Linked DNA regions of Homo sapiens. The gene in region 1 interacts genetically with each later gene. Each region holds a gene or a part of one and is shown in the gene's direction. Other genes may lie near its edges. The genes, in order: FARSB and CTNNBL1.

Region 1 (3,823 bases):
TATTGTAGACTCACTGTGTCTCAGGGTACTATGCCAGGTCCATTTTATGCATTAGCATTTAAATCTTTCCAATAGTACCATGCCATAATGGCTGTGAAATACCATTTTATAGATGAGGCAGCTGTAATGTTGACACAAGATACCAAGAAAGTTTACATAAGGTGCCAAACTCTCAGATCTAATAAGTGGGATAGAATTCAAACTCTGATTGACTTGGCTTCAAAGCCAAAAGTGTCAGGCCACCTCAGACCATTTTACCTGATAGGACTTATGTGACATTCTGTTGTGTGAGATCTGTGATTTGGAGCCTACTTTATATCTGATCTCTACTTAACAGGTGAACAGGTGTTTTTCTTCTGTGTACATGCAAACTTCCCAGTGCAGGTAACCTAAACTACAGTTGATATTAGTGTAGATTAATCAAGCCTTTAATAGTTTTTTCTTTTTTTTATCTTAAATTTTTTTGGCCCAGCTTTTTTTTTTTTTTTTTTTTTTTTTAATTTTTTGAGACGGAGTCTCGCTCTTGTCAGCCAGGCTGGAGTGCAATGTCATGATCTCGGCTCACTGCAACCTCTGCCTCCCAGGTTCAAGCAATTCTCCTGCCTCAGCCTCCCAAGTAGCTGGGATTACAGGCATGCGCCACCATGCCTGGCTAATTTTGTATTTTTAGTAGAGACAGGGTTTCACCGTGTTGGCCAGGCTGGTTTCAAACTCCTGACCTCAGATGATCCACACACATTGGCCTCCCAAAGTGCTGGGATTACAGGCATGAGCCACCATGCCTGGCCTGTTTGTTTTTAAATGATAATATGTGATGCCTGATATTTAGTAGTATGATTGGTGTAAGGCAATTAGTAATAAGAAAATGCAGTTTGTATGTAGTTTTCACTTATACTGAACAGAGTGAAATTAACCATCTCCTTTTTTATTTTCCTAGCTGACGAAGAATTTGATGAACTATGTTTTGAATTTGGTCTGGAGCTTGATGAAATTGTATGTATTGGATATTTGTCTATTTTTCAAAGATTGTGTGCATAAGCTTATTTTTCAGGGTTATACTGTATTTCATCTTTGTTACCTTATAGTTAGACTAAGGTGATAATGTTTGTGGGCCATGATTTCTGTGTTCAGAGGGCTAAGCTCCATGTCTGTCTGTTGCCTTGACTAAAATCTCAAAAGGAGTTCATGCCTTATTCCATCTACAATCACCTTGTTACCAGGCTCATGCTGTGGAAATGGATAGAATGTGTTAGATAACCCCAGTATGAAAGTAAGCTCCCTCCTTTGGCAAATTAATCACAGAAAGGGACCAAGAAGCAGTAGAAATGTTGCTTCAACCAGAGTTACCCTGCCTCCTTCACTTCCAGCGCCTCCTCCTTCAGCTCCTCTGCCCCCATAACCTTCCTCCGTGCCTCTTCAACCAGTACTAATGCATTACTATATTCATTGGTCTTGTAAAATGAACTAATATTTTTTAAGGACTTGCTTATAAAAATGAGGAAGCATTTTCTTTGACTTTTGATTGTATAATGATTACAATATTTAAAAAAATCAAGTCGGCTATACATTTTAATATTGTTAATAATGATTATCTATTAAAGACATACTTTAATTTGGTGGGGTTGGGGGTCTGAGTCCTTCCTCGCGGGGGCTTGATGGGTCCTGAGCATCCTCTGGCCGGGGTTTCTGATCCATCTGCTCCAGCATAAGTTCACAAAGTACAGTCCGCAGGCCAGCAGCATCATCTGGGAACTTAGGAAAAAACCAGCCCTACTGAACCAGAAACTGGGGATGTGGCCCAAGCAACCTTTTACCAAGCCCTCCAGGTGATTATAATGCAAGGAGAGACGAGGTTTTACCATGTTGGCCAGGCTGGTTCTCGAACTGCTGACCTCAAGTGATCCACTGCTTTGGCCTCCCAAAGTGCTGAGATTACAGGTGTGAGCCACCATGCCTGGCCCAATGTGCTTTATATAGTTTCACTCTGTTGCCCAGGCTGGAGTGCGACAGCGCGATCTTGGCTCACCACAACCTCCTCCTCTTGGGTTCAGGCGATTCTCCTGCCTCAGCCTCCTGAGTAGCTGGGATTACAGGAAGGAGTCCTTATCTTGGACCTGAGGCTGCTTTCTTGAAGAAAACTTGACTTTATTTCATTTAGTGGGAAGAGCAGCAGCCCAGCTAATAAGTTCTAATATGCAATAGGCTGCAGGCTGTGAAGTCTGAAGCTAAGGAGCTGAGGGCTTAACAAGTTTCTAGAAGCTGCCATCAACATGCCAAGTCAGTAAAACTGAAAGCTGGTCAGATTTCAAGGTCTGGGGAGGAATCCACTGCATAGTGGGTCTTGAGCTCTAGAGAGCTAGGCCTTGCTAAAATAAAAGAATTACCTTACCTACCATCTTTGTTCCAGGCTCCGTAGAATTTGTGACAGCCCTGGCTGACCTCCGAGCAGAGGCTAGCTGTCCCATCTGTCTGGACTACTTGAAAGACCCAGTGACCATCAGCTGTGGGCATAACTTCTGTCTCTCCTGCATCATTATGTCCTGGAAGGATCTAGATGATAGTTTCCCCTGCCCCTTTTGCCACTTGTGCTGTCCAGAAAGGAAATTTATAAGCAATCCCCAGCTGGGTAGTTTGACTGAAATTGCTAAGCAACTCCAGCTAAGAAGCAAGAGGAAGAGGCAGGAAGAGAAGCATGTGTGTAAGAAGCATAATCAGGTTTTGACTTTCTTCTCTCAGAAAGACCTAGAGCTTTTATGTCCAAGGTGCAGTTTGTCCACTGATCACCAGCATCGCTGTGTTTGGCCCATAAAGAAGGCTGCCTCCTATCAGGAAAAAACTGGAGCAATACAATGCACCGTGGAAGGAGAGAGTGGAACTAATTGAAAAAGTCATAACTATACAAACCAGAAAATCACTGGAACTGAAGAAAAAGGTAAAACATACGGCAGAAGAAGTCAAGTCTGAATTTGAGCAACTTAGGTTATTTCTGCAAAATGAGCAAGAGACTGTTTTTGGGCAATTACAAGATGACGAGATGGATATTTTAGCACAACTAAATGAAAGCCTAACAAAATTTTCAGATTATACCTCCTCATTAAAATATCTACTAAAGAAGATAGAGAGCATATATGTGAAGTCAGAACTGGAATTACTGGCTGATGTTAAGGATATCTATCACAGACATAAGAATTTAAAATTCCCTAAACCTTTTTTATTCAAATTAAAAGAATATGGTTACCATCTGTCTCCACAATATTGTGGCCAAAACAAAATTATCAAGCGATTTCAAGTAGATGTAATTCTAGATCCTGAAGCAGCACATCGTAAACTTATAGTCTCAGAAGATAGAAAAACTGTGCGATATGGAAATACAACACAAAACTTACCTCATAACCCAAGAAGATTTTATCTGCTCCCAGCTGTTCTGGGTTCTAAGGGATAAAATTGTGGCAGGCAGTACCGGGAAGTAGAAGTTAAAGACATGCCTGAATGGATTCTTGGTGTCTGTAGTGACTCTCCTCCCACAAGGAGGAAGAGTCAACCAATTTTAGTACAGGATGGATTATGGAGAATTTGGTAATCTAGTCGGAATAATTATATTGTATTGGGCCATAAGGAAATTATTCTGCTGCCAAAAGTAACACCTAGTAAGATTGGCATTTTTTTAGACTGTGAAATGAATGAGGTTTCCTTTTATAATTTGAATGATAGATCTCTTCTCTGTACTTTTAATGATGATTTTACAGGAGAACTTTGGCCTTATTTTTATACTGGAACTGACTCAAAACCTCTTAAAATTTCTACAGTAACAGATTCTGTATTT
Region 2 (3,823 bases), on another chromosome or scaffold:
TTCTATTTCTTTTCTACCAGATTAAAACATTTGGTTGTCATCATCATCATCATCACCACTAAGTTTTCATCATCTGATATGAGTTTCATGTATTGACTGCTCACTACATGCTAAAGTGTTTTTCTAGAACCTTCTTCTTTCTTTCCTGTCTTTTTCTTCTTTTTCTTTCTTTCTCTCTTTTTTTTTTTTTTTTTTTTTTTGAGGCAGGGTCTCATGCTGTTGGCCAGGCCAGAGTGTTGGTGCCATCACTACTCACTGCAGCCTTAACCTCCCAGGCTCAAGTGATTTTCCAACCTCAGCCTCCCAAGTAGCTGGGACTTCAGGTGCACACCACCACACCCAGCTAATGTTTGTAGTTTTTTGTAGAGATGAGGTCTCACTATGTTGCCCAGGCTGGTCTTGAACTCCTGGGGTCAAGTGATCCTCCCGCCTCAGCTTCCCAAAGTGCTGGGAGTACAGGTGTGAGCCACTGCGCCTGGCCACATACATTATTTCTAATCCTCACAAACAGCCCTGCCAAGAGGGTGCAGCTATCCCCAATTTACAGATAAAGAAATCCCAGAGAGAGAGGAAATGGTGTTGCCCAAACCACATGGGAACCACGTGAGAGAGCCTGTGAGCATTGGGCCTTGGCATCTTTGAAGCCACCTCCTCTTGCCAAGCTGCTTCTCAGCTGGCACTGCTTTTAGGTTCTGAAGCATTGCAGAGCTCAGCGTTGGGGAGTTATCGGGCCTCATCATTTTGGTTTCCTGATTAGATTCTTCCTTCATGCCAATTTCTCAGTCAGAACTTATATTTTAATTTAAAAATGATGAAGTTATCAGTCTGGTTTTTAAAAACTTACTTTGGTTAAATTGGAAACTCTTAGTAGTGTCTTACAGCAAAAGGTGGAGATTTCCTGTGGAACCAAGAATTCTCAGTAGCAAGAAACTCAGCTGGTCGGTGCCTGTTATGTATACACCAGTTCCCTTAGTACAGCCACTTCATGAGGAAGATATTAATTTGGCCAGTCTCATAGCTGGTAACTGTTAGAGCTCAGATTCTAATGCAGATATTTCTGGTTATGGTTGTCAGAAAAACTTGTGGTACCTACTGTGTGTTAGGTACTTTCATATTATGTTTTTAAATTCTCATAGTAACTCTCCAAATAAGTGGGATTTTTTTTCTATTTCTTTTTTCTTTTTTTCATGTCAGTGCCCTTAATCAAAAAAGTGCTATTTTTTATTTTCATTTTACAGATGAGGAAACTGAGACTGAGAATGTTTCTTGGGTCATAGATTCCCATTGTCAGCTTACAGCATTCTTAGTGTCTCAGTAATTCTGTTTTTACAGCACCGCTATGCCAAAAAGTACCTAATAGTCTCATTTATTAAGTAGTTATGTCCAAACCATTTAATATATATTTATGTCCTTACAATTTATTAGCCATTTGAGAAGATAATACACACAAATTGAAAGAAAAAATATTTTTATTTCATTCTTAAATATCATAGTTACTTCCTAATGGTATGTGTGCCTTTTGGTACTGCTCAAATCCTTAAACCTTAGGATCAGATTGAACGCTACGACCATCATTCTGATTTCACATCGATTTTCACAGTTATTTTTGTCAGAGCAGCTATCCAAACGCAGCTCCACAAAGATATGATGTCACCAGAAGAAATGTAACTTGAGCTCCTGGTTAATGCAGTGTTCAACAGATGTCACATTTCACTGTGTTCTCCTTGAAAATTTAACATATCCTGTGGTGAATTAAATATGACACCCCAGTTGCCACAGCGCAAAGTTGGAGAACTGCAGATTTGAGTCAACCTTAGGTGTGTCTAATGCCAGATCTGTGTTTTATTTTCCTTTTTTAAAATTTGATATTTCTACAAAATTAATTTTAATTCAGTGTAAGGTTTTTAAATGCCACAACAGTGGACAGAGTTCAGATCTAAGTTACCCCTGTTTGTTCTCTTGCTTAATTCTGTGTCTTCCCTATAGCAGGTGCCTAATAAGTATTTATTGAAAGGAAGAAAAACTCCCCCCAACTTGAAAACAGGAGCTTACAAAATTGAATAAAGGACAAGAGGCATTAGATCCACAGAAAGGCCATGGCTCTAGTGACCTACTGTCTTTTGGCTTCTTTCAGTTAAGTGTCTTGTTTTAAACAAGAACCATGGCCCTTGCAATGCTAATGTATAAGTTGGTGTGGCTTAAATCTTTTAAAATATAATAGCAGTACTTGGAACTTACATAATTTGAGTGGGAAATTTTATTCGCAAATCCTTGATTTTGATAGAGATGCTTACTCCTTGGCTTTTCACCTTCATGTTTTGATTTTCGTTAATATGAAACCATTTTTCTTAAAGTGAAACATACCACAGGTTGCATTTAAGCCCTGACTATTATGCTGAATTTCTTGAAACAAGGCTTCAAGCTCGCCCAGGGAGCATACCTTACATTTAGCACATGTAAGACCTTGCATTTATAGATCTTTTAACCTAAGATGGTCATACTTGGTTGACCTCCTGAAACCCTGTAGGCTGCACTTAGCTTGATGAGGAAGACGTGCACAGAAAACTGAAATGATACTGAATATTGCTTGATTAGGTACAACTCTTCCTCTTTAAGTATAAAACCAATATCTAAACAGATCTGTGAATGGCGGTAAGGTGACGGAAGTGTTAGTTCCAAGATAAACACTTCCCTTGTCTTTTCCAAGTACAGAAATTCTTTGTCATTTCAAAAACACAGATAGGTAGCAAAGGTTGCTGCTGATTAATAATCATTGTTTACATGCCTGCATTTTAAGGATCATGGGCACCATAAATAAAAACACACCACTGAGACTCGCTCCTCTCTATGCACCTTTATCCAGGGGGCAGTGATAATGGTGAGATATTTAAGTCTCACTACCGAAGCAACACTGAGGACAGCCATGAAAGATAGTCTGTGCAGTAGATGTGTCCCCTCTGAAACTCCCAAATAGCAGAGCATGCAGCGGGGAAAGAATTGTGGGTAGTAATTTGGGTGTTAAAATATTAACACATTTTTGCATATTTAATGTGGTTTCTGTTTTAAGTAGTAGGCAGATTATGGCATGCAAGCAGATAAGTTTATGATTTCAAATTAAATTTTAAGCATTAAAAAAATCCAGAAGGAACTACTTTGTGATAAATACATTCAGTTAATCAAGAATTGCTTTCTTCTCTGCTCATATATTAACTAATTTATAGCCTAATTTCATGATTGTAACTTGTGAATTAAGCTTCATGGTGAGTTTTAATCTTAAAAGTTCAAAACTCTCATTCATCTAGTTCACATTTGGGTACTATGGGCTAGACATATATAATCTCTGGACTCAAAATGGGAAATCTTGGAAGTCTTCACCGAGGAGGTAACCTTAATACCTGGGCATTAAGAGTGTGAGAGCCATTGTTTCAATCTGTCACTTTACTTGGTTCTGGTCTCTTGAGAGCAGAGGCAGACGTTTTTACCCTTAACTGCCTTTTCCTTTTCTAACTTCTGCTTCTCTCTAACTCAGATCATAGTACTCGTGAAAAATTTGTCCTGGGGAAGGAAGCAAGACCCCTTAACATTTTTCTCATTTCTCCTATTTCCCCATAGGCAAAGATGCCTTTTGATGCCAACAAACTGTATTGCAGTGAAGTGCTGGCCATATTGCTCCAGGACAATGATGGTGAGGCGCCCTCTCAGTATTGATATTCTGTTAGGATAGGAGCCAGGCTTGTTTCAGATCATGACAGCAAGCTCTCTTGCCTTTGGCATCCCCTTGCTCTCCCTCTCACTCCCTGTGCTGCTTTTGTACTCTGTCAAG

The links.
Region 2: changes in FARSB (region 1) and CTNNBL1 together harm fitness less than expected from each alone (positive genetic interaction), as found in Homo sapiens cells (one large-scale study listed by BioGRID).

The regions. Positions count from the first base shown.
Region 1 is NC_000002.12:222,645,910-222,649,732, reverse strand, and holds part of FARSB (phenylalanine--tRNA ligase beta subunit), read left to right. Parts: intron 1-937; coding exon 938-993; intron 994-1,607; exon of another isoform or gene 1,608-1,892; intron 1,893-2,736; exon of another isoform or gene 2,737-2,932; intron 2,933-3,386; exon of another isoform or gene 3,387-3,823.
Region 2 is NC_000020.11:37,773,733-37,777,555, forward strand, and holds part of CTNNBL1 (beta-catenin-like protein 1), read left to right. Parts: intron 1-3,612; coding exon 3,613-3,685; intron 3,686-3,823. UniProt on the Homo sapiens protein: Component of the PRP19-CDC5L complex that forms an integral part of the spliceosome and is required for activating pre-mRNA splicing.